Linked DNA regions of Homo sapiens. The protein of the gene in region 1 purifies or fractionates together with the protein of each later gene. This does not show direct contact. Each region holds a gene or a part of one and is shown in the gene's direction. Other genes may lie near its edges. The genes, in order: RPS6KB1, TERT, RIN2, PLD2, RCC2, PPP2R2B and GTF2I.

Region 1 (3,500 bases):
TGGGCCTCAGCTGTCTATAAATATGTAGCTGTATTAAGTAAGGGATGAGTGGGCTTCTAAGGGTCAGGTTATAAGATACCTTTTGAAATCAAGATGTGATCTCTGAGAATAACAAAGTTCCTATTTCCTATGGGATTTTAAAGTTGGGTGTGGATGGGAGAAATTTGCTTGAAATGAATGGCTATTAGCTTAATTCCTACACAGACAGAACAAAACATGACCAATGGCAGTTTAGCATATTCTGGACATCTTTGCAATTTTAGCAATATATTCTAATGGCAAAATAAAGCACTTTATAGTTTCACTAAAATGAGTGAAACATAAATGTCCCCATGCCTTTTGGCAGCATCCTATGCCATCTCTTTTTCCAATACATCCCCCTACCCCACTAATTTGGTCTTTGGTGCATGTCTGTTTCTTTCAAGGAATTTTGCTCCATACGTAAACTGCTTTGGATAGATTACACTCTTTTTAATTTTATTAAATCACTTTTGTTTCCAGCTTTTACTTGGCAGAAATCTCCATGGCTTTGGGGCATTTACATCAAAAGGGGATCATCTACAGAGACCTGAAGCCGGAGAATATCATGCTTAATCACCAAGGTGGAGACATACCGTAAACAATTCTATAGTAAATAATCATCTTAAAATCCTCCCACATAGGTCGTGGCCATTTTCAAAGCCCCAAATTCATCTCTCTATTTTGTATATTTCCTCCCTCAGAATTCATGGCATCATAGTACTTGCTGATATTTTAAGTCTTTAGGTAATTACGCTTGGTGAGAGTAAAAGAAGTTGAGGATAATAGTCGCTCAACTGCCTTTTTTAGTTTAATCCTTACTCTTTATAGTTTTTCATGTTTTTGGAATCTTTACATCAAATGTTGTATAATGTTTTAGACTGTAAAAGCCAGTCTAAACATTAATTTTGGCTTGTTACTTAAATTGAAAAGTGAATCTCAATTATATAAGTTGAGTTTTAATAATGAAAATATGTAAATATTGGCTGGGCACAGTGGCTGACACCTGTAATCCCAGCACTTTGGGAGGCTAAGGTGGGTGGATCACCTGAGGTCAGGAGTTCAAGACGCCTGGCCAACATGGTGAAACCCCATCTCTACAAAAATACAAAAAAAAAAAAAAATTAGCTGGGCATGATGGTGGGTGCCTGTAATCCCAGCTACTCAGGAGGCTGAGGTGGGAGAATCGCCTGAACCCAGGAGGCGAAAGTTGCAGTGAGCCAAGATCGCGACATTATACTCCAGCCTGAGTGAAAAGAGCGAGACTCCGTCTCAAAAAAAAAGAAAATATGTGAATATTAGAAGCTATGCTTCTTACAGTAGGTTTTATTAATGCTGGGAAAAGGATTGAAATTGAACCAAAGTATTTGATAAAACTTTGGAAATATGATGTTTAGTAGGCATCAGGTTACTTTTTTTTTTTTTTTTTTGAGATGGGGGTCTCACTCTGTCATCCAGGCTAGAGTATGGTGGCATGATTACAGCTCACTGCAACCTCCGCCTCCCAGGCTCAAGTGATCCTTCCACCCCGGCCCCTCAAGTAGCTGGGGCCACTGTGGCACACCACCACGCCTGACTAATTTTTGGTATTTTTTGTAGAAATGGGGTTTCATCATGTTGCCCAGGGTGGTCTCAAACTCCTGAGCTCAATTGATCTGCCTGCCTTGGCCTCCCAAATTGCTGGGATTACAGGCATAACCCACCTTCCCCCCAGCCAGAATCAGTTTATTCTTGCTGTTTGTTTGTAACAACAAACATAAACATCAGAGAGACTGATAATCTATACAACTATAGATATAGCACAGTGAGCCTTGACTACAACTGCATGCTGCTAAAGACAGCTCAATTTATGCTAATCTGGGCTGTAGGTAGACTTGGCAATTCACTCGTACCCCAAAGGAGCAACCAGCTGACCCAGGGTATCTAGAAGGTGGTAGCAGCTGCTAATCCTTAGATGTCTACAGAATAATCCATGAGGTAGTTAATTGTTTCAAACTCTTAGAAAATGATGTATGAACAACTGAGGCTCATATAAACATTCCAGATTATACTCCTCCACCCACCTTTTTTTTTTTTTTAAGGAGAAATGATATACTTAACTGAATATATCATGGGAATCAGTGTCTCTTCCTTCCTCTCATCAACACCTCCTCACTCCCCAAAACGTGGATTCTGATCTGAATTATAAGTCACAGGATAGAATAGGGGAGCGATAGAATAGTTAACTTCTTTGATTTATAAGGTTGAGTGTATCAGATGGTTCTGTGAAAATAAAGGCCATACTTCTTCTGTATCAGAGTGTAGTATATATTTACATTTGAATCAATAGGTCATTGTGCCTTTTCTGTGAAATGAACCTCAAATACTAGAGTCCCTGAGATTGTTGAACCACTTGTTATGACAGTCCAGTAAAGAAAGCTAAACTTGAACTGAAATGATCTTTGTGTAAGGTGGTAAGTTTTTTACTTTCTGGATCAGTGATGATTGATTCATACTATCTAGCAATTTTCTTTCTTTCCCCTAATTGGTAGCATTGGGCAGAATGAGCTACCTTGTTATAATGAGTTTCTGAGACCATTTTAAGGACTCTTCACAGTTCACTGTGATAAAAGCTATATATTTGAAGTACTGTCTCACACCTTTGTTCAAAAGGTACAGAGTATGTTTATTGGGGTCTGTGTACGTAAACTAGACTTCATAAAACAGTTTTCCCAGGATTTTTCTTTTTCAGGATGGTAGAGAATTTTGTATATACTTAAAGCTAGAGCCTTAAACAGGTTATTTCACTTTTTTCTCTATCTTTATTTTCTCTTTACTAGATAGATTGTATCATTGGCAAAAGGTGACTTTGCCCTAGCCTTAAACAGTTAGCATCCCATTTTATGGATGGTACCTTGTTCTTGACATCTGCAAGAAAATTTGAGGCAAGAAAAGTTAAATGGAAGGATAGATTAAAGTATTATGTGACATGTTCAAACACTGCACATACTTATAATTCGGAGAATAATCATGCTGTAATCTTTCATTGTAGGTCATGTGAAACTAACAGACTTTGGACTATGCAAAGAATCTATTCATGATGGAACAGTCACACACACATTTTGTGGAACAATAGAATACATGTGAGCTACATGTTAAACATAATTGGTTTGGGGGTAATAGCTAATTTTACCTGTTTTAAGGAATAGTATCTGTTTTCTGTACCCTCATTGACTCTGTATATTGTTTTTAAAATTCTAATTCAGATGATATGCAAATGGGTGAATTTTTAAGCATATTATTTTCCTCATTGTAGGGCCCCTGAAATCTTGATGAGAAGTGGCCACAATCGTGCTGTGGATTGGTGGAGTTTGGGAGCATTAATGTATGACATGCTGACTGGAGCAGTAGGTGCACAGTTAAAAGCTGCATGTATTATTGGTCTGTGCTGAGTCACTATAGCAAGAGACCTGTCCTGTGCTTTCTGAACATGTTACCAGTGG
Region 2 (3,500 bases), on another chromosome or scaffold:
TTTGCTACTGTGAATAGTGCCGCAATAAACATACGTGTGCATGTGTCTTTATAGCAGCATGATTTATAATCCTTTGGGTATATACCCAGTAATGGGATGGCTGGGTCAAATGGTATTTCTAGTTCTAGATCCTTGAGGAATCACCACACTGTCTTCCACAATGGTTGAACTAGTTTACACTCCCACCAACAGTGTAAAAGTGTTCTGGTGCTGGAGAGGATGTGGACAGCAGTTATTTTTTTATGAAAATAGTATCACTGAACAAGCAGACAGTTAGTGAAGGATGCGTCAGGAAGCCTGCAGGCCACACAGCCATTTCTCTCGAAGACTCCGGGTTTTTCCTGTGCATCTTTTGAAACTCTAGCTCCAATTATAGCATGTACAGTGGATCAAGGTTCTTCTTCATTAAGGTTCAAGTTCTAGATTGAAATAAGTTTATGTAACAGAAACAAAAATTTCTTGTACACACAACTTGCTCTGGGATTTGGAGGAAAGTGTCCTCGAGCTGGCGGCACACTGGTCAGCCCTCTGGGACAGGATACCTCTGGCCCATGGTCATGGGGCGCTGGGCTTGGGCCTGAGGGTCACACAGTGCACCATGCCCAGCTTCCTGTGGATAGGATCTGGGTCTCGGATCATGCTGAGGACCACAGCTGCCATGCTGGTAAAGGGCACCACGTGGCTCAGAGGGGGCGAGGTTCCCAGCCCCAGCTTTCTTACCGTCTTCAGTTATTTTTCCCTAAGAGTCTGAGAAGTGGGGCCGCGCCTGATGGCCTTCGTTCGTCTTCAGCTGGCACAGAATTGCACAAGCTGATGGTAAACACTGAGTACTTATAATGAATGAGGAATTGCTGTAGCAGTTAACTGTAGAGAGCTCGTCTGTTGGAAAGAAATTTAAGTTTTTCATTTAACCGCTTTGGAGAATGTTACTTTATTTATGGCTGTGTAAATTGTTTGACATTCAGTCCCTCGTAGACAGATACTACGTAAAAAGTGTAAAGTTAACCTTGCTGTGTATTTTCCCTTATTTTAGGCTGCTCCTGCGTTTGGTGGATGATTTCTTGTTGGTGACACCTCACCTCACCCACGCGAAAACCTTCCTCAGGTGAGGCCCGTGCCGTGTGTCTGTGGGGACCTCCACAGCCTGTGGGCTTTGCAGTTGAGCCCCCCGTGTCCTGCCCCTGGCACCGCAGCGTTGTCTCTGCCAAGTCCTCTCTCTCTGCCGGTGCTGGATCCGCAAGAGCAGAGGCGCTTGGCCGTGCACCCAGGCCTGGGGGCGCAGGGGCACCTTCGGGAGGGAGTGGGTACCGTGCAGGCCCTGGTCCTGCAGAGACGCACCCAGGTTACACACGTGGTGAGTGCAGGCGGTGACCTGGCTCCTGCTGCTCTTTGGAAAGTCAAGAGTGGCGGCTCCTGGGGCCCCAGTGAGACCCCCAGGAGCTGTGCACAGGGCCTGCAGGGCCGAGGCGGCAGCCTCCTCCCCAGGGTGCACCTGAGCCTGCGGAGAGCAGGAGCTGCTGAGTGAGCTGGCCCACAGCGTTCGCTGCGGTCACGTTCCTGCGTGGGGTTGTTTGGGATCGGTGGGAGAATTTGGATTTGCTGAGTGCTGCTGTCTTGAACCACGGAGATGGCTAGGAGTGGGTTTCAGAGTTGATTTTTGTGAATCAAACTAAAATCAGGCACAGGGGACCTGGCCTCAGCACAGGGGATTGTCCAATGTGGTCCCCCTCAAGGGCGCCCCACAGAGCCGGTGGGCTTGTTTTAAAGTGCGATTTGACGAGGGACGAGAAACCTTGAAAGCTGTAAAGGGAACCCTCAGAAAATGTGGCCGCCAGGGGTGGTTTCAGGTGCTTTGCTGGGCTGTGTTTGTGAAAACCCATTTGGACCCGCCCTCCAAGTCCACCCTCCAGGTCCACCCTCCAGGGCCGCCCTGGGCTGGGGGTATGCCTGGCGTTCCTTGTGCCGCAGCCCGGAGCACAGCAGGCTGTGCACATTTAAATCCACTAAGATTCACTCGGGGGGAGCCCAGGTCCCAAGCAACTGAGGGCTCAGGAGTCCTGAGGCTGCTGAGGGGACAGAGCAGACGGGGAACGCTGCTTCTGTGTGGCAAGTTCCTGAGGGTGCTGGCCAGGGAGGTGGCTCAGAGTGTATGTTGGGGTCCCACCGGGGGCAGAACTCTGTCTCTGATGAGTCGGCAGCCATGTAACAGGAAGGGGTGGCCACAGGGAGCTGGGAATGCACCAGGGGAGCTGCGCAGCTGGCCGAGGTCCCAGGGCCAGGCCACAGGAAGGGCAGGGGGACGCCCGGGGCCACAGCAGAGGCCGCAGGAAGGGAAGGGGATGCCCAGGCCAGAGCAGAGGCTACCGGGCACAGGGGGGCTCCCTGAGCTGGGTGAGCGAGGCTCATGACTCGGCGAGGGAACCTCCTTGACGTGAAGCTGACGACTGGTGTTGCCCAGCTCACAGCCCAGCCAGGTCCCGCGCCTGAGCAGGAACTCAGAACCCTCCCCTTTGTCTAAAGCACAGCAGATGCCTTCAGGGCATCTAGGAGAAAACAGGCAAAGTCGTTGAGAAACGTCTTAAAAGAAGGTGGGATGGTGGCAATTTCTTGTCCAGATTTTAGTCTGCCCCGGACCACAGATGAGTCTATAACGGGATTGTGGTGTTGCCATGGGGACACATGAGATGGACCATCACAGAGGCCACTGGGGCTGCACCTCCCATCTGAGTCCTGGCTGTCCCGGGTCCAGGCCAGGTTCTTGCATGCTCACCTACCTGTCCTGCCCGGGAGACAGGGAAAGCACCCCGAAGTCTGGAGCAGGGCTGGGTCCAGGCTCCTCAGAGCTCCTGCCAGGCCCAGCACCCTGCTCCAAATCACCACTTCTCTGGGGTTTTCCAAAGCATTTAACAAGGGTGTCAGGTTACCTCCTGGGTGACGGCCCCGCATCCTGGGGCTGACATTGCCCCTCTGCCTTAGGACCCTGGTCCGAGGTGTCCCTGAGTATGGCTGCGTGGTGAACTTGCGGAAGACAGTGGTGAACTTCCCTGTAGAAGACGAGGCCCTGGGTGGCACGGCTTTTGTTCAGATGCCGGCCCACGGCCTATTCCCCTGGTGCGGCCTGCTGCTGGATACCCGGACCCTGGAGGTGCAGAGCGACTACTCCAGGTGAGCGCACCTGGCCGGAAGTGGAGCCTGTGCCCGGCTGGGGCAGGTGCTGCTGCAGGGCCGTTGCGTCCACCTCTGCTTCCGTGTGGGGCAGGCGACTGCCAATCCCAAAGGGTCAGAGGCCACAGGGTGCCCCTCGTCCCATCTGGGGCTGAGCAGAAATGCATCTTTCTGTGGGAGTGAGGGTGCTCACAACGGGAGCAGTTTTCTGTGCTATTTTGGTAAAAGGAAATGGTGCACCAGACCTGGGTGCACTGAGGTGTCTTCAGAAAGCAGTCTGGATCCGAACCCAAGACGCCCGGGCCCTGCTGGGCGTGAGTCTCTCCAAACCCGAA
Region 3 (3,500 bases), on another chromosome or scaffold:
ATTTGGCAGGTGGTTTATAGAGTAGGAACAAAAGTTTATTCCTTTTTCCCCATAGTTTTCCCCTAGGTCTGGCATCATTTGGTGAATAAACCTGCCTTTCCCCAGCTCCATAACACATACAAATTCTACTAGGAAGGGCAAGTCCCACTTCACTTTCTGCGTTTTTTTTTTTTTTTTTTTTTTTTTGACAGAGTCTTGCTCTGTCTCCCAGGCAGGAGTGCAGTGGCATGATCTCAGCTCACTGCAACCTCTGCCTACCAGGTTGTACTTTTAGTAGAGACGGGGTTTCACCATGTTGGCCAGGCTGGTCTCGAACTCCTGACCTAAAGTGATCCACCTGCCTCAGCCTCCCAAAGTGCTGGGATTACAGGCGTGAGCCACCGTGCCAGGCCACTTTCTGCCCTTTTATCTTCTCCCCCACCCCCAAATCTTCTTGGCAAATTCACTTATTAATTCTTCCAGTGAAATTTTATTCCAGGGGATTTGTTTGGAATTATATTAAGCCTAATTTGGGAAGACCCGAAAGATAGTTTGGGATCCTCTTTTTCTGGGAAACCATGACATTGAATTAGAGCCAGTGGGCATTGATTGTATGTGTTCAGGCCACACATGCACACTGATCCCTGGGGTGGCTGGTGAGGAAGGCACAAACCCAGACTGGAGGAGACTGGCTTCTGGTTTCAGCTCTGCTGGGAGGTGTGGGACCTTGGCTGGCTCAAAGGTTCATTTGCACTCATGTGTGTAGGCGCTCCTTTAGGATTCCAGGCTTCAAGGACCTAGCAGCCTAGCAGGGGATACTTACACAGACTGGGAAGGGCAGGACAGTGTGGTCAGTGCTTGACTTGAGAGACAGACATACTTGTGTTGAGTTTGAACTGGAAGACCCCTAATTCAAGTTCTTTGTTGCTTTCCTTTGCAATGGTTTTTCTCCTTGATAATTTAGGGATCCCACAAAGTCAGAGGCTCTTGTCTTTTTAGAAAAGGCATTTATCCCTCTTCCTTTTATGAAGTAAGCACAGGGATCTTGGGGGTGGGATGGGGTGGGTTTAGGAGATTCCTCTGGCTCTCTGCTAGACTAATGTTGTTGAAGGAAGGTGACTTCATCCTCATGGATGGCAAGACCCTTTGGAAGGTTTCATGGCTTGTGAGAAAAGGAGGCTACAGAGGGAGGGAGGGAAGGAGGGACAGCCAGTGGGATGGACCAGGCACAGATGGGGAGAATGGTCCTCCTAGGTTGACGGAGGCGCTTTATTAGGGTGGCTTCTTCAAAGCTTCTTATCCCCTCAGTCCTGTGAGGTCTGATGTCTGAAGTGACAGTCAGACAGCTCCCTGTCCTTCCCTCATGGTGGGAGGCTGCTCCTGGCCATCTGTCATGGATGGGGCACCCACCCATCCTCTCTGTATTCCGGGATTCCTGCCTTAACAGATGGTGTGTGTTTCGTATGACAAACACTGTCTCTGGGCACACCTCATACCCTAGTTTTCCCCAATATTTGCAGCTAATGTCTTTCCCTAAACAGTTTACAGGATGACCTTAGACCACATATATGATCTAAATAATACAAATAACCTACTACACTTTAGTATCAGCTTAGGCACTCTCCCTCTTTTAAACTGTGCTTCCATGGGACGTTGGGATCAGAGGTAGAGTCATTTCAAAGAACAGGGCTAGGAAAGGGCAGATTCAAGGTTGGTTCCCAGACCACTTTCTATTCAAGGGCAATGTGGTTGCATACAGAAGGGGTACTTCATCCTTTCCTGGGCATCAGAAAAGGATTCACAATGGAAGAGATGTCTAAGCTACGGTGGATGGAATCATCAGTGTTAACTAATAACACGTGGGTTCCAGGCAGGAGCGGCAAGTACAAAGAGTGAGAAATAAGCTGGGTGTGATGGCTCACACCTGTAATCCCAGCACTTTGAGAGGCTGAGGCAGGCAGATCACTTGAAGTCAGGAGTTCAAGACCACCCTGGCCAATATGGTGAAACCCCATCTCTACTACAAATGCAAAAATTAGCTGGGCGTTGTGGCACGCACCTGCTACTCGGGAGATTGAGGCAAGAGAATTGCTTGAACCCGGGAGGCGGAGGTTGCAGTGAGCTGAGATCGCGCCACTGCACTCCAGCCTGGGCAATAGCGTGAGACTCCATCTCAGAAAAAAAAAAAAAAGAAAAAAAAGAGTGAGAAACAAGAGAGGCTTGGAGCACCTAGGGAAGGAACGTGGAGTTTGTAGGGGCCAAGGGAAAAGTTCTCCTTCACCTGCTGAAGGTTTGCTGTAAAATCAACTCAGAAAAGGCAGGTTAATTGGGGAAAAGGCATACAGATTTACTTAACGTGTCTACAGAGGAGCCTTCAGAATGAAGACCCAAAATACAGGGGAAATTGTGTTTATGTTTAGGTTCAACAAATATGGACAGCCGTGTAGAAATGTGACTGGACAAACAGTCTGATTGAGTGCGAACAGACTGCTTGGGGAGATCCAGCAAGGCCTGTCTGTCTAGATTCCTCCTGGTCTCTCTGAGCAGCATTCCTTTCTTCCAGGTATGGAGCTGACCCTCTCCGGAATGCTCTTATGACCTATAGTTAGTCACAGTAGGTCAGACAGTTTCTTTATGGCCAGTTTTTACACAGAATGGTGGAGGGAAAGTTACAGCAGTAAGTTTAGGTTTTGTGGCTGGCTCTGGGGAAAAGAGGTTATGGGTCCTATGACCCACTTTGAAGGAGAATTCTAGTTTCTCTGGCTAGCCTCAGGGAGGATGGGACTGAGAGACCAGAGGGCAGGAGGTCAGAGAATGACTTTTGCTTCTGAGGCCCTCATTTTGGGGTACTGTTTTCTGAGCTCCTGCGAGTTCATTATGGCACCACTTAGAATGCGAGGCTCCTGGCCAGGCGTGGTGGCTCACTCCTGTAATCCCAGGACTTTGTGGGGGCTAAGGCGGGTGGATCACCTGAGGTCAGGAGTTCGAGACCAGCCTGGCCAACATGGCGAAACCCTGTCTCTACTAAAAATACAAAAATTAGCTGGGCGTGGTGGCAGGTGCCCATAATCCCAGCTACTCAGGAGGCTGAGGTAGGAGAATCACTTGAACCTGAGAGGCAGAGGTTGCAGGGAGCCGAGATCACGCCACTGCACTCCAGCCTGGGCAACAGAGCAAAACTGTCTCAAAAAAAAAAAAAAAAATCAATGCAAGTCTCCTGCGAAACATGGAGAGAGACGGAGGATGTGACCCAGACCCTCTGAGGGCTTCAGTCCAGGGAGGGAGGCAAGAACTGTACCTGCAGGACAAGTGGAGGACAACTTAGGAGAGCGTCATGTCCCAATGATCCAGACTGTGTGTCACGATGGAGAAAGTCTGTGAGGGAAACAAACCAGGTTCTGCCTGGTCTCTCCCTATGTTTTGATCTAAATAGCATCTCAGGCTCCTTGTCTATAACAGGAGATGAGGGAAGGTCTCAGACCAGGTTCCCTAGAAGCAGACCCCGAGGTGAGGATTCATGG
Region 4 (3,500 bases), about 55 Mb from region 1:
AGTTCAAGACCAACCTGGCCAACATGGCAAAAACCCGTCTCTACTAAAAATACAAAAATTAGCCAGGCGTGGTGGCGGGCGCCTGTAATTTCAGTTACTTGGGAGGCTGAGACAGGAAAATTGCTTGAACCCAAGAGGCGGAGGTTGCAGTGAGCCAAGATCATGCCATTGCACTCCAGCCTGGGTGACAGAGCGGGACACCATCTCCAAAAAGCTATATATATATTTTTTGATACTGCCAAATTGTCTCCTAAAAGTTATATTCCCATAGTCTATGAGAATACCCACTTCCCCAGCATATTGAATATTGATATTGAATGTTACCAGTGATTTGAATTATTACCAATCTAATGGATTTTTTAAATGTAATTTCATTTTAATTTCGTTGTTTACTAGTGAAACTGAACATTTGCCACGATTGGCCATTTTAATTTCTCTGTGAACTGTCAGTTCTTACTCTTTGCTCATTTTTCAGTTGGCTCATGTGACTTTTTCTTGTCGATTTATTGGTGTTCTTTATGTATGATGTATTAATCCTCCTGTTCTTTAGTTGATTAGGTTATTGTGTCTTTTTGTAATTTTTATTTGTATTTAGCGCATATGGGCAAACACTATTTTGATGTGTCTGATACCACTTGTGTTCTCTGATCATTTCTGATCTTTGACCTTGCTGTCACCTCTGACCCACGACTGTCCTCCGGTCTTCACTCTCCAGAGCTTTCTGGCTTCTGACTCCCCTGACCTCCTTGGCTTGGCCTCCCCCCAGGTTTGTGAATGGGGCAGGTTACTTTGCTGCTGTGGCAGATGCCATCCTTCGAGCTCAAGAGGAGATTTTCATCACAGACTGGTGGTGAGTGGGAAAAGGCCCCAACAACATGGGGCAGGATAGAGCCTGGGGCAGATCAGCATTAGGAGGAGAAGGGGGGTGCAGCTGGTGGTCTGGGGCTTCGTTTGCCCCTAATCCACTGCCCTGAATCCCAGGTTGAGTCCTGAGGTTTACCTGAAGCGTCCGGCCCATTCAGATGACTGGAGACTGGACATTATGCTCAAGAGGAAGGCGGTGAGGAGAGTGGTCAGGCCGCAGGGGGAGGGGGTTGCCTGTGGGTGGAGGTTGATTAGCAGGGCTGCAGTGTGGGAGAATTAGGCAGTCTGAGGCTTCAGGGGAGGGAAAAGTGTCCATCCTGGCCCAGCACCTGTCAGACATCACCTCCGCCCTCTCCCTCTGCCCTAAGGAGAACTGACAACTTCCTCTTCATGCTCCCTCCACCTGGCAGAGACTTCCCTCCCAGTATACATAATACTTTATTGTGTTATCTGGGGGTATACATGTCTATCTCTCTCACTGGACTAGTTAATATCACTGTTCCACTACAAGGCACAGTACCTGCCATGGAGGGGGCATGTGTGGTGTTGATGGACAGGAAGAAGGATGCATGGATGATGCAGGGTGGCTGGGCAGGTGGATGGATAGAGGACAGAAAGGGTGATGGATGGAAGGATATGAGTTGGAAAGGTGGAGGGCTAGGAGGGTAGGCAGGTAGATGGATGAATGATAGACGGTACATAAAGGGATGAGTAAATGCTTGGGAAGATGGATGGATGGATGATGAAGGGTGGGTGGATAGATGTGTGGATGGGTGAGTGGGTGAGCACACAGATGACATTTAGTCTAAGTCTGTGGCAAGCAGCAAAGCAGGGCATATGTGGCAGAGCCTCTAGGATCTCCAGACAAGCTGGAGGGACACACGTGGAAAAGGTTTGGGAGTGTGGAAAGGGGCTACTCTGGGAGAGGCACTAGGATCTGATTCCCCAACTCACCACCAGGAGGAGGGTGTCCGTGTGTCTATTCTGCTGTTTAAAGAAGTGGAATTGGCCTTGGGCATCAACAGTGGCTATAGCAAGAGGGCGCTGATGCTGCTGCACCCCAACATAAAGGTGACTCTCGGCCTCAGAGACCCTCCCACATGACAGCCCTTCTCCCCACACTGTCCCAGCCCCCAGCGCTCCCGCTCCCTGATGGTCTCATCTTTCCATCTTTCCTCTCTCCCTCCCAGTACCTCCTGTTTTCCTTCACCTAAACCCACCCTCATGAACCCTCCATGCCTGCTCCAGGTGATGCGTCACCCAGACCAAGTGACGTTGTGGGCCCATCATGAGAAGCTCCTGGTGGTGGACCAAGTGGTAGCATTCCTGGGGGGACTGGACCTTGCCTATGGCCGCTGGGATGACCTGCACTACCGACTGACTGACCTTGGAGACTCCTCTGAATCAGCTGCCTCCCAGGTAATCCCCCTGAGGCCTTCCTGAGCACCCCCAAACTCAGATAAGCTCAATCAACACCATTTCCCAGCTCCAGCCTTACCCCCTCAGTCATTCCAGGCCCTGCCAACCTCAGGGTTCCTCAGACTTTCTGGGACTCCAAGAACCCACTTTGAAAGTGCTGTAACTGGCCGGGAGCCATGGCTTATGCCTGTAATCCCAGCACTTTGGGAGGCCAAGGCGGGTGGATCACCTGAGGTCTGGAGTTCGAGACCAGCCTGACCGACATGGTGAAACCCTGTCTCTACTAAAAATGCAAAAAATTAGCTGGGCATGGTGGCAGTTGCCTGTCATTGAAGCTACTCGGGAGGCTGAGGCAGGAGAATCACTTGAACCCAGGAGGCGGAGGTTGCAGTGAGCCGAGATTGTGCCATTGTACTCCACCCTGGGCAACAGAGCGAGACTCTGTCTCAAAAAAAAAAAAAAAAGTGCTGTCACCCACCCAGTCCTTTCCCCATTTTCACTGACCATCACCCCATTCCTCTAAAAGTGTCAAAGGCAACTGGAGGGGAGGGCTGGGGAATCAGACCCTCTGTTTCATTCTTCCTCTCGGTCTCTCTCACTCTTTCAGTGCTCCTCTCTTTGGCCCTGGCTCTGTACAGCCCCATGACTTCCCCTTGCCCCTGGCTTGGGTGTGTTCCCCCTACAGCCTCCCACCCCGCGCCCAGACTCACCAGCCACCCCAGACCTCTCTCACAACCAATTCTTCTGGCTGGGCAAGGACTACAGCAATCTTATCACCAAGGACTGGGTGCAGCTGGACCGGCCTTTCGAAGGTGAAGCCTCCCACCCGCCAAAGCCCCAGAGAGCTGAGAGCAGGGTCAGAAGCTGGGGCTGGTACTGAGAGTGGGATGAGAGGGGTCAACGGTGGTACAGCCCTCCCTCTGGCAGGCTCTTTCTCCCTGCCCCAAGTGTCCCAAGGAGTCCAGCCCTGACATCTCCCCTGACTCTCCTGGGACCCCCCAGATTTCATTGACAGGGAGACGACCCCTCGGATGCCATGGCGGGACGTTGGGGTGGTCGTCCATGGCCTACCGGCCCGGGACCTTGCCCGGCACTTCATCCAGCGCTGGAACTTCACCAAGGTGTTCATTCCCTCCGATAGGGGCTGGAGGTAGGGAGGGAGCCAGGGCAGATTGGCACCTCCTGCTGACTCTGCCATCCCTCCACGTCAGACCACC
Region 5 (3,500 bases), on another chromosome or scaffold:
AATGCAGTGGTGGGATCTCAACTCACTGCAACCTCTGTCTTCCTGTTTCAAGCTATTCTCCTGCCTCAGCCTCCTGAGTAGCTGGGATTAGAGGCACCTGCCACCATTCCTGGCTAATTTTGTATTTTTAGTAGAGATGGGGTTTCACCATGTTGGCCAGGCTGGTCTCAAACTCCTGACCTCGTGATCCACCTGCCTCGGCCTCCCAAAGTGCTGGGATTATAGGTGTGAGCCACCGCGCCCGGCTGTTAGTGTATCTTTTAATTTTAATGGCCTTCCTGTGGTTCTTCTGTCTGAGAATGCCTAGGAGTCTCTTTGTTCTATGCTTTGTTGAAAAAGCCTGGGCTAGGATTCCAGAGATCAAGTTGGTCCTCCCCACTGAGTGGTCTCAGCTCACCACCTCCTTCCCTTGGAATCTTCTTGCCGATGAAGAATGCCCAGGGAATTGGGCTAGGACTAGGGTAGGAGATTTCAGTTTGTGCAAGTCCAAAAACTGATTTGTTTTGTCTGATGTAGTCAGGGGAAATAAAGTTGGCTCTTGTTTAGGGCCTTATAGGCCAAGTTTTTTAGTAAGTTGTAGATTCCCATGGTTTAGACATGAAACATCAAAGAACTGAATTGGCATGTCAGAAGATGGGAAAACGAGACTGAAGAAGATAAATCTTAAACACTTGAAGTGTCTCTGAGTTCATTTCATCAGTGACCAGGTACAGGTTACCTCTGTACCTGTGGGTGAGGGAAGTCTAAAGAAAAATCCAGGCCGGGCGCAGTGGTTCATGTTTGTAATCAGAGGACTTTGGGAGGCCAAGGTGGGCAGATCATTTGAGACCAGCCTGAGCAACATGGTGAGACCCCCATCTCTACAAAAAAACCACAAAAATCAGCTGGGCATGGTGGTGCACACCCAAGTCCTAGCGACTTGGGAGGCTGAGGTAGGAGAATCGCTTGAGCCCAGGAGGTGGAGGTTGTGGTGAGCCGTGATCGTGCCATTGCATTCCAGCCTAGGTAACAGAGCACGAGACCCTCTCGAGGGGGGGAAAAGAAACGAAAAATCCAGGAACAGGTAGGCCTTTTCTGTTCTTTCTGCAATTGAATCTGTTTTTTTTTTGTTGTGTTTTTTTTTTTGTTTCGTTTTGTTTTTTTTTTTTGAGATGGAGTCTCATTCCGTCACCCAGGCTGGAGTGCAGTGACGCTATCTCGGCTCACTGCAGCCTCCGCCTCCCAGGTTCAAGAGATTCTCCTGTCTCAGCCTCCTGAGTAGCTGGGATTACAGGTGCACACCACTGTGCCCAGCTAATTTTTTTGTATTTTAGTAGAGATGGGTTTCACCATGTTGCCCAGGCTGGTCTTGAATTCCTGAGTTCAGGCAATCCACCTGCCTCAGCCTCCCAACGTGCTAGGATTACAGGCATGAGCCACTGCATCTGGCCGAATCTCTGTTGTAGTGGGAATCAAATGATTGCCCAACTCTCAGGAGACATAGCCCTGTTGCTTCTGATTAAGGAAAGGGTTAAGACTTGTAACTTAAATAAATAAACAGAACAAAAAAGGATTGGAAAATGGAGTCCCTGGCAGAGAAAATAGCAAACTGGGCTTATTGAATGCATGCCATTTTGCTACACTTGCTCCTGTTGCCTCCTCCCCCACTGCTGGAGGCGGGAGGTAGAGGATCTTTCTGCTGGAGGCAGGCAAAGGATATTTCTTTGGTTTTTGGAGACAGGGTTTCACCATGTTGGCCAGGCTGGTCTCAAACTCCTGACCTCAAGTGATCCACCCACCTTGGCCTCCCAAAGTGTTGGGATTAGATGTGAACCACCGTGCCCGGCTGGTAGGGGATCTTGAATGTTGCTGTTCCTTTGCCCTTAGCATTTGCACCAGGTTGTCTGCACAGAAACGATGACCCCTCTTGTTGCCTGTTGGAAGTCTGTTTGTTCCAACCCTGTGTTTTCTTTCCTTGCAGCTGGTCCTGGACTCCCAGAAGCGAGTCTTCTCCTGGGGCTTTGGTGGCTATGGCCGGCTGGGCCACGCAGAGCAGAAGGATGAGATGGTCCCCCGCCTGGTGAAGCTGTTTGACTTCCCTGGGCGTGGGGCTTCCCAGATCTATGCTGGTTACACCTGCTCCTTTGCTGTCAGTGAAGTGGGTTAGTGATTTCTGCCCCCTGGCTTATCAGTGCTCTGGTGCGGAACCGTGTAGCCATTGTCCTGTCCCTAGACCACGAACCCCAATTCTCTTTACCTCCCAGTGTTCTTTATTTTTTTGAGACAGGAACTCGTTGTGTTGTCCAGGCCGGTGTCGAACTCCTGGGCTCAAGCAGTCCTACCACCACAGCGTCCTGAGTAGCTAGGACTGCACAGGCACGCCACCACGCCTGGCTCCAGTTATCTTTTAGACAGAACACTTGTTTGCCATCCCGTCCTCTTTTCACCCTGATAATACTGAAGATGAGACTCAGCTCTCGATGTCTGGTCACGCTGGGAACATGTTTTGTCTTCCCTTAGGTGGTCTGTTTTTCTGGGGGGCCACCAACACCTCCCGTGAATCTACCATGTACCCAAAAGCAGTGCAGGACCTCTGCGGCTGGAGAATCCGGAGCCTGGCTTGTGGGTAGGTGGCAGCATCTCCTGTGGGTATGAGGTCTCTTCCTTTCATGGGGGTGTCAGACACACCCATGGGGTGCCCCTCCCTGATGGGGCTCTGTTTCTGCTGCCTGTTGGGCTGTCCTCAGCAGGCCATCTGACACACTGAATCCCAGAGTCCGGGGGTACAGGAGGGGAGAGGGCCCATTTGCTGCTAGAACAGATGGCTGTTCCCTGTCTTGTGGGAAGAAAGTCATTTTGAAGGTTTCTGTTCAAAGAAATAAACAAGCAGAGCTTGATGTATTCCTACGCTGCAGGTTGAAAATTATACGTAGTTGGAAACGTAGCAGGACTTGAGTTGCTGTGACACTGGGAAGACGACATTGTCTTGGCAGCAGTGGTTTGTAGTTCATTTCAGGACACCTGTTGAGTTAGCTAGCACTTCTTGCTGAGGAGTTGGATTTATCAGCTGGCAGGTGTGGGTGGAACAGTATGAGGGGCCTCTGTCGGCGTGGCTTTAATCTGTTGAAGGCTCTAGCCCTGCCCAAATCATTATGCATGAAGGCTGCTCCCTCTGGAACAGGCTTTCACTTTATCCTGATCTGGTCTCCTCTTCCCAAAGCGACCTCCCACTGAGAGAGAGCTGTGCAGGATGCACAGCAAGGTCCCCTGCCTTTGGCCCCTAGGCCTGTCTAAGGGCTTTGTTGTTTTGTTGAAGCGTTGAGTGGCCTGCACGGAACAATCTTAGGATTGAGGAGAAACCTGTTGGCCCTGTTATTGTGTTTGCTACTTGGAATGAGTACGCCAAGGGAAAAGTGGCAGCTCACACTCATGCCCTTGAGCCATAGCTGCGTGGGTGCAGGTCTGGGGCTGCTGGCCCTGCAGTGACAGCCTGCCTGTTTGCAGGAAGAGCAGCATCATTG
Region 6 (3,500 bases), on another chromosome or scaffold:
CCAATGTTACCATGTTTATAGCAGGACTGTAAAAGGGGAAGGTCATGGAAGATCACAAGTGGGAGATTCCTCTGAGCCATGCCCTAAAAAAGTATGCATTCCATTGGCTAGAATTCAGCCACATGGCTAACTCTTAACTGCAAGGCAGCCTAGGAAATGTAGTCTGGCTGTGTGCCCAGGATAAAAAGACCCGGTTTTGGTACACAGCTAGCTAGTCTCCACCATGGAGAGCACTCAACCGTCTCCAAGGGCTTTCAGGGAAGGCAGCTTTAATCAGATAGTGGCAATTATGAGATATATTTGGAGACAATGAGAACTGACCATCAGGACCATGCCTGGCATATTTTGTTGATCACGGAACAGACTCCACATGCTGTCTGGGCCTGCCTACAGATTTTGCCTGGCAGTGCAGCTGCTAATAGAATGAGTGTGGGTGGTGGTTCCCTTTTTCTCTCTCCATCTATTCCAAGAGCCAGAAATCTGCTCAGGCTCAGCTGGCTGTCACTCTGAGCTTCTGCTTCCCCAGTCTAGGTGACATGTTTTCTGAATTTTGCCTCTAGGCCTTCAAGGGGGAGGGGAGTTTCTTTAGGCATTTTGGGAGACAGATGCCTTGGGGAGAATGCAAAGGGGAAATATTAACAGCGCAGTTTAGGTTATATTCTGCAGATGTGTGACAGACTGCCAGATGCTGGCATACAAATGAGACCGTGCCATTCACCCTTAAAGCAGCCATATGTAAAATAATCATTGTCATCATGAGAACGATGATAAGTGATATCTATATAGTTCTTTTCAACCAGACCGCCCTAAGCACTGAGCCTCTCATCACTGAAGTATAGCCACCTCTGGGGTAGGAAGCGGCCATCTTTCAAAACAGTCTCAGAAAAATACCAGCCACCAGGCAGGTCTCATTTCCACAATGCCCCTTATTCACAAAGGAGACAGAAGAAACATGGTTCAGGATAGAATAATTTGGGATTCCCAAAGCATAGTGTGGCTACTACTGGGGATGGTAAGCAATGTGCTTCTAAGCAATAGTGAACGTCAAAAAACATAACCATCATATCCTACAATTTCATAGATATTCAAAATCTATTTAGATTACAAAGTAAGTGTATGTAAAGCATTAAGTAAATAGTGAGACAAGGGATCTGGAGATATGGTTAGAAAACAGTCATGACTTCCTGTGACTGGCATTTGGTGTGACTTTGGCATTACGGTTGAGAACTCAGGCTTCAGAGTCCAACAAGTGATAGAGGTCTCACCCAGCCCTACCACTTTTCTGGCTGTATAAGCTTTAACATGTTCTTAATCTATCCAAGCCTCCATTTCTCATTTTGTTCATCTGTAGAAAGCAGCTCTATCACGAGAGGATTATGAAAATTAAACACACACACACACACATACGCACGCACACATTTAGGGTAGTGCCTTGCTAAGCAAATGCTCAGTAAACAGGACTAGCACAATCATGATAATTATTGAGAGAACAAGGAAACTAGAAAAGTTGAACATTAGAATGGTAGCTTTTATTCTGCTAATTTTATTATCTGGATTGTCTTTTCAATTCTAGACTCTTCCTTTGGTTCTGCAGTTGGGTGTCCTTTGCAAGATGCTGCCCCCTAGTTACTAAATGTTTTCAGGAACTCTGAGGTCTAGGGCCTTGTGTTTAGCACCAGATCAGAGCAAGGCATTTCTAAACCTCATGATAACTGGTCATGAATTCTCTCCCTTCCATCCATAGCCAGTCTGTCCTTGTCTTGTGTAACAGTTTCCCACATAAGCAGTCAAACTTTCGTCTTAATAGGCTAACTACATCAGGACTATAACAACTCATTAATAGATTAGTAGTTTTCTAGGGCAAGAGACAATAGCAATAAATGAAAATTTATATTAAAAGATGTTGCTTCTTTATGAAAACTATGGTATACCTAGAATCCTTTGAACTCTTTTTGCAGGACTAAGAATGAACTGACCTGAGTTCTTACCTTGTCCAACATGGGATCTATTAAATAGGCCCATATCGAGTAAAAATAAAGACTAGCCCTCAACGATGATAAATTGAGCACCTAGTTTGTGCCAGGCATGAAAATGGGAAAAAACAAATTTGCCGCTTTCAGAGTAATGTTCATCAAATACACTGAGTATATAATTACAAACTGAGATAATTTCTGTGAAGACAGGGAATATGGTTCTATGAATGCATTTTTAAAAATCCTGCTATAGACCAGGGAAGGCTTTGCTGAAGAATTAGTTAAGATCTGAAAGAGGAAGACTATGAACTAACTTGGCAAAGAGGTGTGGAGACATGTGTTCAGTGTGTACAGAGGTCCTGTGGCAGGAGAGAGTATGACATGTTGGAGGAATTCTAAGAAGGCCACTATTTTTGAAGCCCAGAGAGTGAAGTGGAGCATGGAGTAAGCAAGGCTGGGAAGGGTAGCAGAAGCCTCACCTTTCAGAAGTCCAGTCTCTGAATATGAGATAGAGGACTTATCTGGGAGAAGCCAGCTGGACTCTAGGGATACTTCAACTTTGACCTTGGTCCTAACAACCCTGTACAGTGGCTTCATTTTATTTGTCAACCAAGCTGAAGCCCTGTTAGAGTCGATTCCCTAATTAAGGGACCAGGTAGCCTCAACTCTTGGCTTCCAGGTTCTAGCACTCATTACTACCATGGACAGCAGCTTCCTTTTAATTCAGTGGGATTCTGCCAGGCAGGCTTCCAGGGGAACTGTGGGGTCTAGTACAAGTTTCTCCCCTGTTGCTGCTTCAGTGGCTTTCACCCTGCCCAATACATATTTAATATGACACCATGTGTCTCTTTGTCAGTCTCCTCATATTGAGCCTAGGAATTGGCAAACACTCCATGAATATTTACACATTGACTTTTTTTTAAGCTCTTAAGAGAGGAATATCCCTTGGAGTCCTCTTTGGAGATTTCCAGTGTCTCATCATCAAGCAACATGTCCTTTCAGCTAATAAGATCTTTATGTTTCATAATCATTGCTTAATATCCAAAGATTAAATTTAGACCATGGAAAGGGAAAAAGATCTCAAAGCAACTCATGTCCCTAAAAGGAAATCACACTCATCAAACAAATACGCTGTGTTCACACAAAGATATTACTATTTTCTACCTTCAGTACTGGCAGACTTTAAGTGGGATATGAAAAGCCTCAGCTGCTTTTGAATGTGGGTACTTTACCCTGGTAAACATAGATTCCACTCTTCAGCTTGGCCAATGTTTATAATACTCAGCCCTGCAGAAAAGCGTCCTACTTGGCTCTCTTATCCTCCATTGGCTTAGACAGGAATTGGGGAAATACGCATGTCAGTATTAGCAAAATCAGCAGCAAAGGGACAGAGGCATATGAAAGTCACCTCACAAAGGCAATGCATATAAACCCTATCCTTGGAGAAATATGTGCTTCCTTCAGAAGAAGGAATATTCACTCCAGTGTAAAACCACTTAAATTATCTTTTCCATTATCTTGTTTAAT
Region 7 (3,500 bases), on another chromosome or scaffold:
ATGTTATCCTCCGCAACTTAACGTTCTCTTGCACTTTCAGCTCAAGCTCTTGGACTCACCGAGGCAGTAAAAGTACCATATCCTGTGTTTGAATCAAACCCGGAGTTCTTGTATGTGGAAGGCTTGCCAGAGGGGATTCCCTTCCGAAGCCCTACCTGGTTTGGAATTCCACGACTTGAAAGGATCGTCCGCGGGAGTAATAAAATCAAGTTCGTTGTTAAAAAGTAAGTTCTTTTTGCCACTGTAGTCGTTTCTGGAATCAAAACAATAAAATGACATTTCTGTTAAGATGTTTTTCAAGCTAGAGGTGACAGGCGTGGCTGTAAGTCCTTGATGGCAAAGCCTGGCTGTGAGCTGCAGTCCGGGTACTGTCCATTGCCCCTGCCCATACTCAATCATCTTCATCCGTGCAAGGAAAATAGTGACAATCGCCTCCGCGGAGTCACCGTGAGGCCCCGTGGTGACTCGCAGTATGCCTGAGTACTTGAATGGAAGTTTAATTTGCTGGTTTTTATCTGCTCTGTTATTCCTGGTCAATCTTGAGAGCGACTAAATATTGATGATTGAGTTTCTTTCTTTTTTTTGAGACGGACTCTTGCTCTGTCGCCCAGGCTTGAGTGCGGTGGCGCAATCTCAGCTCACTGCAACCTCCGCCTCCTGGGTTCGAGCAATTCTCGTGCCTCAGCCTCCCGAGTAGCTGGGATTACAGACTTGCACCGCCACGCCTGGCTAATTTTTGTATTTTTAGAATAGATGGAGCTTCACCGTGTTGGCTAGGCTGGTCTGGAATTCCTGACCTCAGGTGATCCACCCGCCTCAGCCTCCCAGAATGCTGGGATTACAGGCATGAGCCACCGTGCACGGCCTAATGATTGATTTTCTTATCTACATTTCTGCAGAATTTTAGTGGCTAAAGAAAGTACACTAGTGTTTTTTTTTTCTTTTTTAATGAAAATAGTCACTTATTTACTCTTCATAAAATGGCTTACCAGTCATGGGAAGGAAAAGTCAGGGTCTTTTGTCCACAACACTAGGAATTATTGTGTTACAGGATGATTCTGTGAATGCCTTTAGAAAAAAAACCCTGATCACATCACGACCGTTTTACTAGCTGTGAGGCCACCACTGTGCTGGCTACTGTAACACTTCTTGGTTTTCTTTCTAGACCTGAACTAGTTATTTCCTACTTGCCTCCTGGGATGGCTAGTAAAATAAACACTAAAGGTAAGAGACGACGTGTACTCCGTATCCTATTTGAGCGCATTAAGACACTCTTTATCCGCATTCCTTAAATCATACGGAATCGGCCAATATCTCTGTGGGGCTTGGAGTTGTTTACTTTGCTTTCTAAGGTATTTTATTTAATGGAACTATTTTTCTTTTTTTTTTTTAAAAAAACAAAACATTTCATTGGAAATGTCACATTTGCAATCCCAGTTCATTCATGTTTTCACAGCTTTGTTGAGCCCCTGTGGAGGATTACACTACAAGTTTAATTCTGCAGGTTTCTTTGAAAAGAACCAAACTGTATGAATTTTAATACTCTGCTCTTATAAAGCATCTCCTTCTGTATTTTTTTTTCCCTACAATATACAAAAGGAACTCTGCTTATTTTACAGCTTTGCAGTCCCCCAAAAGACCACGAAGTCCTGGGAGTAATTCAAAGGTTCCTGAAATTGAGGTCACCGTGGAAGGTAAGGGCCAGTCCTCGGTATGTTTCTGTTCATTCTCTAGTTTACTAATTATGTCAGTTCACTAGCTATGTGTTTATACAGGTTTATACAGATGACGTTAACCAAACTAGCTTTTAACTGTGAACAGCTGCCTGTGATAAAGCTAAATTTCTGAATGCTTCTAATTGAAAATTTTTAAATCCTTAATAGAAAACAGATAACATGGATCACATCATAAACTTCCCCCAAGAAAAGTCCTAAAATGCTTTTCCTTTATCATAACAAATAAGGGTGCAGAGTCATGTGGAATGTTTTATCTTTTTTTTCCTCTTCATTTTTTTCTATTGTTTTAAGGAAAGAAAGTTTAGGGTGGTTTAAACAGCAGTGCCTTGAATAAAAGTATTTTCTTTTTCTTTTTTGAGACAGAGTCTGGCTCTCTTGCCCAGGGTGGAGTGCAGTGGCACAATCTCGGCTCACTGCAGCCTCCGCCTCCCGGGTTCAAGTGATTCTCCTGCCTCAGCCTCCCAGGTAGCTGGGATTACAGGCGTCCACCACCAACTCCAGCTAATTTTTATATCTTTAGTAGAGACGGGGTTTTACCACGTTGGCCAGGCTGGTCTCGAACCCCTGACCTCAAGTGAGCCACCACGCCCAGCTGGTTCTTGTCTTTTCAGGCTCACAGTGTTAAAATACTGCATACAATACTAAAGACAATCTCCAACCAACTGTCAAGTATGGATATTTCTTCCATCTCTTCATAAATGCAGAAGGAAATCACTGCATTAGGATCATTCTCTACATCCCAGGTGTCAAGTTTTTAAATAAGAGTTTGCCGTACTGGTGTTGAGTGGCGCAGAAGTCCCTATTTAGTCATGTGGCACACTTTCAGAGAGCCTGCTTTCTCATAAGATAGCCAACAAGCATCCATGGACAACTTACACCTGATTAATTATTTCTGTTCAAAAATGCCAAGAATTAAAAATATATTGAACCCTTGACTTTCCTCCTTCCGGAAGAGATCAGAGGAAGATCTCTCTTATATACAAGATGCCAGCCTTTCCTAAAGGGCAGAGCCAAGTTCACGGGGCCTGGGAGGCCTGCTTTAAGAATACAAAATTAGGGCCAGGCGTGGAGGCTCACGCCTGTAATCCCAGCACTTTGGGAGGCCGAGGCAGGCGGATCACCTGAGGTTGGGAGATCGAGACCAGCCTGACCAACATGGAGAAACCCCATCTCTACTGAAAATACAAAATTATCTGGGCCTGGTGGCGCATGCCTGTAATCCCAGCTACTCAGGAGGCTGAGGCAAGACAATCGCTTGAAACCAGGAGGCAGAGGTTGTGGTGAGCCGAGATTGCGCCATTGCACTCCAGCCTGGGCAACAAGAGCGAAACTTTGTCTCAAAAAAAAAAAAAAAAAAGAAGAAGAAGAAGAAGAGAAGAAAAATGGGTTTCTGTAGAAATAGAAAAATGGTTTCTGTGGAACTCGCCGGAATGACAAGAATACCCATTTCAATTTGAACCTAGCTTTGTTTTCTGGCACAGGCTGGACTTGAAGATTGTAACCTAGAGACACTTACGTCATTAAATGTGTGTTGATTATCATTATTTTTTCTGTCTTTTAGGCCCTAATAACAACAATCCTCAAACCTCAGCTGTTCGAACCCCGACCCAGACTAACGGTTCTAACGTTCCCTTCAAGCCACGAGGGAGAGAGTTTTCCTTTGGTAAGTAAGCGTTTTATTTTTCTTTCTTTCATAGTTTTAAATAGAATACGTTCATTATGTTTCATTTTACCAGGTGAATTGTTCCTATTGGTGAGTCAGTA

Evidence for each region.
Region 2: the proteins of RPS6KB1 (region 1) and TERT purify together in Homo sapiens (affinity purification with western blotting, with the first as the bait; one study listed by BioGRID). This does not show direct contact.
Region 3: the proteins of RPS6KB1 (region 1) and RIN2 purify together in Homo sapiens (affinity purification with mass spectrometry, with the first as the bait; one large-scale study listed by BioGRID). This does not show direct contact.
Region 4: the proteins of RPS6KB1 (region 1) and PLD2 purify together in Homo sapiens (affinity purification with western blotting, with the first as the bait; one study listed by BioGRID). This does not show direct contact.
Region 5: the proteins of RPS6KB1 (region 1) and RCC2 fractionate together in Homo sapiens (co-fractionation; one large-scale study listed by BioGRID). This does not show direct contact.
Region 6: the proteins of RPS6KB1 (region 1) and PPP2R2B purify together in Homo sapiens (co-immunoprecipitation; one study listed by IntAct). This does not show direct contact.
Region 7: the proteins of RPS6KB1 (region 1) and GTF2I fractionate together in Homo sapiens (co-fractionation; one large-scale study listed by BioGRID). This does not show direct contact.

Annotation. Positions count from the first base shown.
Region 1 is NC_000017.11:59,931,121-59,934,620, forward strand, and holds part of RPS6KB1 (ribosomal protein S6 kinase beta-1), read left to right. Parts: intron 1-501; coding exon 502-602; intron 603-3,049; coding exon 3,050-3,140; intron 3,141-3,313; coding exon 3,314-3,404; exon of another isoform or gene 3,405-3,408; intron 3,409-3,500. UniProt on the Homo sapiens protein: Serine/threonine-protein kinase that acts downstream of mTOR signaling in response to growth factors and nutrients to promote cell proliferation, cell growth and cell cycle progression.
Region 2 is NC_000005.10:1,264,069-1,267,568, reverse strand, and holds part of TERT (telomerase reverse transcriptase), read left to right. Parts: intron 1-1,033; coding exon 1,034-1,105; intron 1,106-2,976; coding exon 2,977-3,165; intron 3,166-3,500. UniProt on the Homo sapiens protein: Telomerase is a ribonucleoprotein enzyme essential for the replication of chromosome termini in most eukaryotes. Active in progenitor and cancer cells. Inactive, or very low activity, in normal somatic cells.
Region 3 is NC_000020.11:19,764,758-19,768,257, forward strand, and holds part of RIN2 (ras and Rab interactor 2), read left to right. Parts: intron 1-3,500. UniProt on the Homo sapiens protein: Ras effector protein. May function as an upstream activator and/or downstream effector for RAB5B in endocytic pathway. May function as a guanine nucleotide exchange (GEF) of RAB5B, required for activating the RAB5 proteins by exchanging bound GDP for free GTP.
Region 4 is NC_000017.11:4,813,652-4,817,151, forward strand, and holds part of PLD2 (phospholipase D2), read left to right. Parts: intron 1-766; coding exon 767-850; intron 851-981; coding exon 982-1,060; intron 1,061-1,824; coding exon 1,825-1,935; intron 1,936-2,112; coding exon 2,113-2,283; intron 2,284-2,890; coding exon of another isoform or gene 2,891-2,929; exon of another isoform or gene 2,930-2,968; coding exon 2,969-3,095; intron 3,096-3,285; coding exon 3,286-3,404; intron 3,405-3,424; coding exon of another isoform or gene 3,425-3,494; coding exon 3,495-3,500.
Region 5 is NC_000001.11:17,412,178-17,415,677, reverse strand, and holds part of RCC2 (protein RCC2), read left to right. Parts: intron 1-1,960; coding exon 1,961-2,141; intron 2,142-2,499; coding exon 2,500-2,605; intron 2,606-3,483; coding exon 3,484-3,500. UniProt on the Homo sapiens protein: Multifunctional protein that may affect its functions by regulating the activity of small GTPases, such as RAC1 and RALA. Required for normal progress through the cell cycle, both during interphase and during mitosis.
Region 6 is NC_000005.10:146,644,758-146,648,257, reverse strand, and holds part of PPP2R2B (serine/threonine-protein phosphatase 2A 55 kDa regulatory subunit B beta isoform), read left to right. Parts: intron 1-3,500. UniProt on the Homo sapiens protein: The B regulatory subunit might modulate substrate selectivity and catalytic activity, and might also direct the localization of the catalytic enzyme to a particular subcellular compartment.
Region 7 is NC_000007.14:74,744,718-74,748,217, forward strand, and holds part of GTF2I (general transcription factor II-I), read left to right. Parts: intron 1-40; coding exon 41-224; intron 225-1,165; coding exon 1,166-1,224; intron 1,225-1,619; coding exon 1,620-1,694; intron 1,695-3,297; coding exon 3,298-3,399; intron 3,400-3,500. UniProt on the Homo sapiens protein: Interacts with the basal transcription machinery by coordinating the formation of a multiprotein complex at the C-FOS promoter, and linking specific signal responsive activator complexes.